2 linked regions of the Homo sapiens genome follow. The protein of the gene in region 1 interacts with the protein of each later gene in a pairwise test. Each region holds a gene or a part of one and is shown on either strand. Other genes may lie near its edges.

Region 1 (5,445 bases):
TCTGACTCCCTGCTCTCCCAGGGGACAGCTGACAAAAATATAAGTGCTCTACTGGTTAAATGTTAGGAAAATCAGGGCAGGAGTGGCTGCTTATTTTCGCATCTGCTGTTCATGCGTGGTCCTGGTGGCAGGTCATGTTTTGGCAGATGATAGCTGCTCAGGACTGTCCCAAGATTAAAAATCTCATAGTGTGTGTACACAGTGGGGAAGGCTATAAGCAAAGGGGTCTCTTCCCCCAGGTGGTCTAAAGGAAGTCAGAGCCAGACTCCCTCCCCTCCCAGGAAATTCCTGTCCTGTTGGGATGGTCATTTCTACCCCAAAGGCCAGGCTAGGGCAGGGTCTGGAACTGGCTGCCTCCAGGAACCAAGCAGGCAACGTAAATCAGTGAAGGGCTGATGGGTACTTGCGGAAACAGGAAAGCACGTACAGCCCCATTTGCGAGGTAGGCTGTGACTCAGCCGGGTGAGTGTTGCCATGCACTATTCCAGCTCTTGCCTTGCCAAATGTTTATATTTTTTTCAATCCAAGTAAGAAGTGACGCATTTTGTGTTTCCAGATTTTTAAATATTGGCACTAATTCAGATTTTAAAAACAAAAGGCTGGGCATAGTGGCTCAGGCCTGTAATCCCAACACTTTGGGGGACCGAAGCGGGCAAATTGCTTGAGCCCAGGAGTTCAAGACCAGCCTGGGCAACATGCTGAAACCCTGTCTCTACAAAAAATACAAAAATTAACCAGGTGTGGCGGCATGCACCTATGTCCCAGCTACTTGGGAAGCTGAGGTGGGAGGATGGCTTCAGCCCAGGAGTTGGAGATTGCAGTGAGCCAAGATCGCGCCACTGTACTCCAGCTTTGGCAACAGAGTGAGACTCTGTCTCAAAATAATAATAATAATAAAACAGGACTGTGAGAGGCACATTTGGGACTTCTGGTCCTTGTTTCATCCAGGAAGGTGGGTGTTCTTAGGATACTAGAGCTTTACTTTACAAGGAGAAAAGTGGAAGCCCAGGTAGAATGTGTTGCTTCTGGCAATATTATTGAGCTAGCCTCCATGCTAGGGGTTAGAGGCTTCACAGCAAATGAGAAGCCCCTGTTCCTGCCATCTTGGAACTCCTAAGGAGGTAGACAGACAAGTAAAGAGGCAACCACAAGAGTGGTGAATACTCAACAGGAGTAGGACATGGAGCAGGGGCTAGGGGGAGCACAAATCAAAGCAGGCTTCCTGTAAGAGGAGCTCCCTGATCTGAGACTTGAAAATTATTAGGAGTTGGCCAAGCAAGGAGCAGGGAGAGGAGGGGTATTCCAGATAGAAGGAATAACACATGCAAAAGAGACAGGAGGGAATCACATGCAAGGACGTGGAAGTAGCTCATTGTGGCTGGAGTTGAAAGTAGCAGCTGAAAGGACGTAAGGCAAGAAATGAAGCTGGAGAGGTAGACTAGGGTTGCAAACAAATATCTATTGGGACTTGGCACCAGTGAGTACAATGGTCTGGGTGTAACAGCCAATAGAGGATGGTGGACTGGGTCACCCTGGAGTCTGCTGCTACTCAATTGTAGCTACTCTGCTATAGCCTAGGGTTGCCAAAGCTTCCTGTTTTTTGGGAGCAGTGGGAAATTCGATTATTAAATCCAGTACCTTGAGCTTTGTGTTTAAGCTGCTAATCTGAACGTTTACAGTACTCCACAAGGTCAAATAAAATCTATTTCCATCTGGCCCTGGGCCCACCAGTTCCAATCTCTGGTGGAATCGTGAAGGCCCTGTGAGCCTCTTTAAGGAGAGTACATTCCCAAGGCAGGGAAGCCACTGGCGGGCTTTCAGCCAGGGCATGACATCCCAAGTGTGTACACAAAGGGCCTGGTGGCTGCTGTCTGGAGAGCAGCAGGACGGCAGGAGGGGAGGCAGCAGTGTGTTTGGAGGGTGTTATGGCACCTGGAGAGGGCCAGGGAGATGATGGGGACCTGCACAACACGGGATGTGGGAGAGATGGGATTTGATGACAGACAAGAAGGGATAGTGGGGGCGGGGCCAAGGATGACACAGGGGTCAAGGCAGCAGGTGCAGAGGGAGGAGAAGGAGCAGTGATGGATGAGTATGTCCTCGGCGTGCCTGTGGTCACTCAGGGAGGTGCCCAGCGGATCTGATCCTGGGAAGCCTGGAGTCACATCGCTCAGGCACAGGACCCTCAGTTTCCTGTGCCACCAGCGGGCATTCCTTTATCATGTGTACCCATCACATGTGAGTTCAGTGGGGTGAATAGGACACACCTTTACCCCTCAGAACTGCAGTCAGGACAAGTGGCGAGTTCAAGCAAGAGGCTGGCCCGGTGCTGTCCCGGAGCTGTCCCGGAGGGCAGGGTCCTGGGTGGGAGGGGCAGTGACCGTATTGCCTGGGAGCCAGGGGAGGCGTGTCCCACAGGAACCGAGGGTGACAAGGAGGTTGGGCAGGGGCTCCAGTTGGAGTGGACTGCCTCAGCGAAGCCTGGAGGTGTGACAGAGCCAGTGGTTAGTGAGTAAAGGGAAGGAACCCAGAAAGGCAGACTGCTCCTTCCCCACATTTCGTCAGGAAGGGAATAAAACATTTCTTAAGAGGTCATCATTCCTTTCACTTTCTCGGGGCACCTTGCTCAGAGGTCCTGCTGATTCTCCCTGGGACAATGAGAAGGTGTTTAGTAAATAAGTGCTCATGGTGCCTCTCCACCCCCCATTCCCTCCTCCCTCTGGAGCAGTGCCCTGTTGAGTGTCTAAGTTCTGCTACAGTTTGTGTGAGAGTCTTTATAAATTTCCTACTGGTCTTACTTCATTGTGGCCAAGATTAAAAGTTGACAGTGAGGCTGGAGATGAGTGGAATACAGTAGAGTTCAAATATCGACAGGGGATTAGGGGTGGAGTTCGGGGAGGCATTCTAAGTGCCCTGCTGCCTTTCTGTTTGAATATTAAGTTCCAACCCGCTTGCTGTTGCGGATGTCTGTGCCTCCTTTCAAGGGGGCATCAGCTGCATCCTTATCCTTCCCCACCCTCTGCACTCTGCAGGGTGTTCTGAGAATCAGCCATGTCATCCCTGTACCCATCTCTAGAGGACCTAAAAGTGGACCAAGCCATTCAGGTAAGTCGCCAGGCCCCATTGGCCTGGATTCCCTGAAGGGGACCTTGGGGATTACCCTGGAAGGTGCTGGGTACTGGGGCCACTTGGAGATTCCCGTAGGCCTCAGGGCATGTAGGTGTCCACTGCAGGGCCTGCTGGGCAGAGAAGACATCCAGGGGGCAATGCCAATGGCGTTACAGCAAGAATAGAAAAGACCAAGCAGCGCACGCATGCCTCTCTCATGCCTGCTCTGTCCTGCCCAGGCCCAGCTCTCCCTCCCTCCAGGATGGGCGGGCTCCATGCTCTAAGGCAGGCTTTCAGAGGAAACAAGACTAGTGGGCATAGGCATTGGTCTGCTTAGCCCCCAGAAGCCCCCTTCCTCCTCCATCCCAGCACTCTGTGGTTCCAGTGGGTTTTGAGAAATGGAGACTTTTCAGCTGAGAACTTGATTGGGAGATGGGCCTTGATGTTCTGCCTGTTGCAGGCAGTAAATGGGTTGTGACATAGGGTGGGTCACAGTCCCCCAGAACTTCCTCCCAGGAAAAGACACATCTGCGGAGGCCACGTTTACGTGATCTTGAGCCCTGAGGGTTGGTGCACACTCCCCCCACACCCCGGGCCCACTCACACCCCTAATGCCCAGACCCTGGCCTCATGGAGCTCCAGGCTCTGGGGTTCCTGGGGTCCTGGCCACAGCTGACCAGTGCTCCCTGCTCCTCCCCAGGCCCAGGTCAGAGCCTCACCCAAGATGCCAGCCCTGCCAGTCCAGGCAACAGCCATTTCCCCACCACCAGGTGAGTGGGCTGGGATGAGGGGCTCCTGGGTGCCAAGTCCTTTCAGGGAAGAGATCATCAGGGAAGCTTGGCAATGCCAAAGGTATGGGAGGCTCCAGGGTTAAGGACTCAACATGGTGGGAAGAGAGGACCAGGCTTCCAGTTGCCACCCACCTCTTACTGCCTGGGTGACCTGGGCTGAGTCACCTCACCTCCCAGAGCCTGTGCCCATGCTGTTCCCCTCCCTCCTTGACTGCCTGGTGAACCCCTGTTTATCCTTCCAAACCCAGCTCAAGTTAGGGAAGCTATGGCTTCTCTGATGCCCCCAGCAAGGCTGCCTTGAGGATGTGATATCATTTGTGGGGCCTCTGTCTATATAAACGATTTGAGTCACCTCAAATCAGCATTTCAGCACCATTCTGGTGATCCAATCTCATGTGACCCCGGGAATGAAATACCACACTTGTCAGACTTCCTTGCTGGAACTATGGCTGGCCTGGGGTGGGGGCAGGTGGGGAAGAAGTGGACGGCAGATAGCGGCTCAAAGAGAGAAGGGGCCAGAACCCCACTTGCCTTATTCAGCTTAGGCTTCCATAACAAAATACCATAGGCTGGATGACTTCAACAGCAGAAATGTATATTCCCACAGCTCTGGAGGCTGGAAGCCCAAGATCAAGGTTCTGGCCAATTCAGTTTCTGGTGAGGCCTCCCTTCCTGGCTTGCAGATGGCCACCCTCTGGCTGAGTCCTTACATGGCCTTTCCTCAGTGTACTTGCTTAAAAGAGAGAGAGAAAACGAGAACACGAGAGAGATACAGCATGAGAGCGCATGCATGAGCCCTCTGTTGTCTCTTCTTATAAGGACACAAATCCTTATAAGAAGGGATTAGGACCCTGCCAGTCCTGGTGGGAACCATTCGCTGAGGGATGCAGAGGTTTCTGGGTGTCAAATAAAGTCAGTGGAGTTGAATAGCAAAGTGGTGCATGAGGACTCGGTGTCCTACCCTGCACCTGGGCCCTCTGAGGAGCGCTCATCAGTGAGTGTTCCTGGGGATACCCCACAGTCTTGGAAATAAATACCATTCCCAGGCTCCATTTCTTAATAAAAATGAGCAGCCACAGGGGAGCCAGGCAGGCATAGGGAAGCACATGTCCTCTAATGACACATTTATTCTTCCTTCTTTCCCTATCAGTTTTGTACCCAAACTTGGCAGAACTGGAAAATTATATGGGTCTTTCCCTCTCCAGCCAAGAAGTCCAGGAGAGCCTGCTTCAGATTCCAGAGGGTGACAGTGTATGTATTTGGCTTCTGCCTGCTGCGGGCGCAGAACCTCCCAATCCTCCCTTTTTCCTGGTCTTGCCATTTCAACAGACCTTCTTTCTCTCTGTGCTCGGACCTCCCCTCTCCCCAGCACTCTGCTGGCTCTGTTTCTTGATGGCACCGTTCATTTTGAGGCTTCACGAAAACCACTGTGGGCTTTCATGGTTTCAGATCTTCCCACAAGCCTTGGGGATGGAGAACCAGGGCTTGCCCTTTGACCTTGGGCCTGAGCTGGATGAGAAGGGAGGTCATTAAGCCCAGCGTGAAC
Region 2 (4,472 bases), on another chromosome or scaffold:
GAGAAAACAAAAAAAAAGCTAACAACTCCTTTAGAAGAAAGTAGATTTTAAACTGTATATACTTTCCAGGTAAGATTTGAAAAGAAAAAGAAAACCTATGCCAACAAAAAACCTTTGGTCGATATTTCTCTTCTGGGCCCTTGAAGTTACCTTTTTGACCCTTTGGTTCATGTAGTCAAATTTATCATTTAACAACATGTGATTAATAATATAATAAACTATTTCATATTGAGGAATGAGGGGTATGAAGAGAGTGAATTAATTCACTTTGCAGTTATTGAATTATAATTCAGTGATATTATCTATTACAGGTCTATTTTTATAGATCTGAGAACAAAAGGACTCACAAAGCTTAGTTCCTAGTTTTTCTCTTGTAACTGATTTGCTGCATAAGCTCAAGTCATTTGCCTAATCTCTGTTTGCCAGTGTCTTACGTTGTAAAATGTAAAACAGGCCATAAAAACTAGCTTCCAAGGTTATTGTAAAGTTTTGATAATTTAATAGTTAAAGTCATTACTGCCTCACATTTCTATGACCATTATCACTACCTATGGTAAGTTGAGGCACTTATGAATAAACAAATCTTGTATAGACTTTAAATGGTTGCTAGCATCCTCTAGAATACCTTCACAGGTACATTGTTTGGCTTCTCTGTTAATTTACGGAAGATATTATGTTTTGTAGTGGTTGTCTAAACTTTTTTAGAATTGACTTATTGGATCCTTAATCTTGGCATACTCCAGCCGTCCAGATCGCCTTAGGGACATTGCTGATCGCTTTAATGTAGACCATGATGCAGTACTGGACAACGTACTTTATGCACGTGCATATACTAGTAAGAGCCCCATGCAGTTGGATGCTTGGGTCAATGTAAGGTTGGCAGCACTGATTTACTACTTGAGGGATACAACATTTTGATACTTTTTTTCTATTTTATTTTTCTCTAAATTAATTTACTCAGTCTATAAATTTTATCATCTGGTAAGTCCTTAGATAATAAAGTGCCCTCAAATTATTTATTATTCTTTGTCTTTGAAATTAAGAGTAACATTCTTTTTGGATAATGTAGCATTTGGTATACATGCTAAGGCAGAATATGCAATAATTTTTTTTTTTTTTTGAGATGGAGTCTCGCTCTGTCACTCAGGCTGGAGTGCAGTGGTATGATCTCGGCTCACTGCAACCTCCAACTCCTGGCTTCAAGTGATTCTCCTACCTCAGCCTCCCAAGTCGCTGGGATTACAGGCACACGCCACCACACCCAGCTAATTTTTGTATTTTTTAGTAGAGTCAGGGTTTCACCATGTTGGCAAGGCTGGTCTTGAACTCCTGACCCCAAGTGATCCACCTGCCTCGGCCTCCCAAAGTGTTGGGATTATAGGCATGAGCCACCATGCCCTGCTGCAATAATATTTAATAAAGTCATCAATAATTAAGAAAATCCTTCAAGGAATTTATTTTGCCTGGCTCCCAAGAATATGAATGATCTTAGCCTCTGCTTCTTTCAACTTTTATAACATTTTCTCACTGCATTTCCCATCAGGTGAACATCAGATGGAGCTACTTGATTATGTAGCAGCAAAGTTCCATGAAGAAGCTGGCATCTTCAAGCTATTGGTACAAGCTTTTAAATATTGCTTTCACAGAGCTATTTAGCATAATATTTTTCTTCTATTGATCTCTATTCAAATAACGTCTTCCTTCAATTTCCAAATGCATGTTTATTTTTACATTAATCCTGTGTAGATTATCGATTCAATAATGGCACTTTTTCGAGTGGATTTCAGTGGCCGTGGGGAGTTGGCCGAACGGCAGCAAAAATTGGCCCAGATGTTGTCACGACTCCAAAAAATCTCAGAAGGTATATCTTTAAAATAAAATGGCATCTGTGACTATGTTTGTCAAGTATACTTTGCAGAGAAGCTTGGAATATAATGTCAGGAGGCAGCGATTTTTTTTTAAATAAAATTACCTTTATGAGAATACAACTCTTTGTTTTTTTTTTGTTTTTTGAGATGGTATCTCGCTCTGTTGCCCAGGCTGGAGTGCAGTGGTGCGATCTCGGCTCACTGCAACCTCCGCCTCCCAGGTTCAAGCAATTCTTCCTCCTTAGCCTCCTGAGTAGCTGGAATTACAGGCACCTGCCATCACACCAGGCCAATTTTTTGTATATTTAGTAGAGACGGGGTTTCACCATGTTGGCCAGGCTGGTCTCGAGCTCCTGACCTCGTGATCTGTCCGCCTCAGCCTCCCAAAGTGCTGGGATTACAGGCATGAGCCGCTGAGCCCGGCTTTACAACTCTTTTTAAACCAAAAATATTTATTCTAACCTTAATAATAATAATAACAAATAATTTCTGTTGTCAATGAAAAATAGGAATATGATGTTATTTATAAAATAAATTCATGATGCAATATGTCTAAACTCTGAAATCTAAACAATGAACTTTTAAATATCTATATTGCCTTTCTCATAGTTTTAAAATTTTATCTCTTGATGCAGAATATAACGTGGCTGTTTTTGTGACCAATCAAATGACTGCCGATCCAGGAGCAACTATGACGTAAGCCCCAATATTCTACTTTTTATTTCACAGAGGTTAATATAAAGAGGGTTAGAGCGTAGAATAGAAAATAATTTCAAGGCCGGGCACGGTGGCTCACGCCTGTAATTCCAGCACTTTAGCAGGCTGAGGCAGGCGGATCACGAGGTCAGGAGATGGAGACCAGCCTGACTAACATAGTGAAACCCCGTCTCTACTAAAAATACAGAGATTAGCCGGGTGTGGTGGCGCACACCTGTAATCTCAGCTACTCCGGAGGCTGAGGCAGAAGAATCACTTGAACCTGGGAGGTGGAGGTTGTAGTAAGCCGAGATCGCGCCATTGTACTCCTGTCTGGGAAACAGAGCAAGATTCTATCTCAAAAAGAAAAAAGAAAAAAGAAAAGAATTTAAAAATCATTAGTCTTTATGTGGGCACAAATATATCACAAATCACTTTATTACTGGGCGCAGTGGCTCATGCCTGTAATCCCAACACTTTGGGAGGCCTAGATGGTTGGATCACCTGAGGTCAGGAGTTCAAGACCAGCCTGGCCAACATGATGAAGCCTCGTCTCTACTAAAAATACAAAAAATTAGCTGGGCGTGGTGGCGTGCACCTGTAATCCCAGCTATTCGGGAGGCTGAGGTGGGAGAATCACTTGAACCTGGGAGGCGGAGGTTGCAGTGAGCCAAGATCATGCCATTGCACTCCAGCTTGTGCAACAAGAGCAAAACTGCATCTCAAAAAAAAAATCACTTTATTGCACAGTGTATATGACTTCATAATTGTAAATATCACTTGGTAACCAGAATCTATTTTTCTCTAGTTCTTTATAGAATAAAGCAATACTTTAACCATTTTCAGCAGTACTTTGGGCTTCTCTTTGGTCTAGGGCTAAAGGGGTATGGGAGGACAATAAGAAATAGATCCTAGGGAAATAAAAACTTATATTGCAGCTTATCAGTATAATAAACACCATTCATAAAAACAAAAAAGTCATCTTTCTACAGGATATACATGAGATATATTTATCAGAGGCACTATGGGAGAAGTCTCCTGTTTGAAGAAAAAGAATTTCAGTTCACACTAGGCATATTCAGAATTTGTTGAAGTGTTTGTGCACATAACTATTGATGACTCTGAAAGACGGCAGTGAATAGAAACACACAGAGAGCTAAAGTAGGATAATAAAAATAGATAAATCAAACAAAGGTTTGTTGCCACCGTAACAAATTTTGAGCATTATGTGTCTGAATAAGCAATCAAAATAATCCTAAATACACACCACTGCACTCCAGCCTGGGAGACAGAGCAAGACTGTCTCAAACAAAGCAAAACAAATCTAAATTCATGATAATGCTTTTTTAAAGTGTGTGTGTGTTTTTTTTTTTTAAGAGACAAGGTTTCACTCTGTCACCCAAGCTGCAATGCAGTGGCACCATCTCTGCTCACTGCAACCTCTGCCTCTCAGGCTCAGGTGATGCTCCAGCCTCAGCCTCCCGAGCAGCTGGGAGGCACACATCGCCACGCCTGGCTAATTTTTTTATTTTTAGAAGAGACAGGGTTTTGCCATGTTGGCCAGGCTGGTCTCGAACTCCTGGCCTCAAGCGATCCTCCCACCTCAGCATCCCAAAGTGCTAGGATTACATGTGTGAGCCCCCTTGCCTAGCCAAAAAGCTTTTAAAAAAATCTTTTAAAGGCTGGGTGCAGTGGGCAGTGGCTCACTGTAATCTCAGCACTTTGGGAGGCCGAGGTGGGAGGATCACCTGAGGTCAGGAGTTCAAGACCAGCCTGGACAACATGGCAAAACCCTGTCTTTACTAAAAATAAAAAAACTAGCCAGGCATGGTGGTGTGCACCTGTAGTCCTAGCTTCTTGGGAGGCTAAGACAGGAGGATCACTTGAACCTGGGAGGCAGAGGTTGAA

The links. Proteins that work in one complex are often made in the same cells at the same time.
Region 2: the proteins of SDCBP2 (region 1) and DMC1 interact in binary tests that used the Homo sapiens proteins (3 or more experiments, as listed by UniProt).

What each region holds. Positions count from the first base shown.
Region 1 is NC_000020.11:1,318,023-1,323,467, reverse strand, and holds part of SDCBP2 (syntenin-2), read left to right. Parts: intron 1-2,267; exon of another isoform or gene 2,268-3,032; 5' UTR 3,033-3,051; coding exon 3,052-3,105; intron 3,106-3,808; coding exon 3,809-3,878; intron 3,879-5,049; coding exon 5,050-5,150; intron 5,151-5,445.
Region 2 is NC_000022.11:38,535,684-38,540,155, reverse strand, and holds part of DMC1 (meiotic recombination protein DMC1/LIM15 homolog), read left to right. Parts: intron 1-743; coding exon 744-835; intron 836-1,543; coding exon 1,544-1,617; intron 1,618-1,746; coding exon 1,747-1,861; intron 1,862-2,503; coding exon 2,504-2,564; intron 2,565-4,472. UniProt on the Homo sapiens protein: Participates in meiotic recombination, specifically in homologous strand assimilation, which is required for the resolution of meiotic double-strand breaks.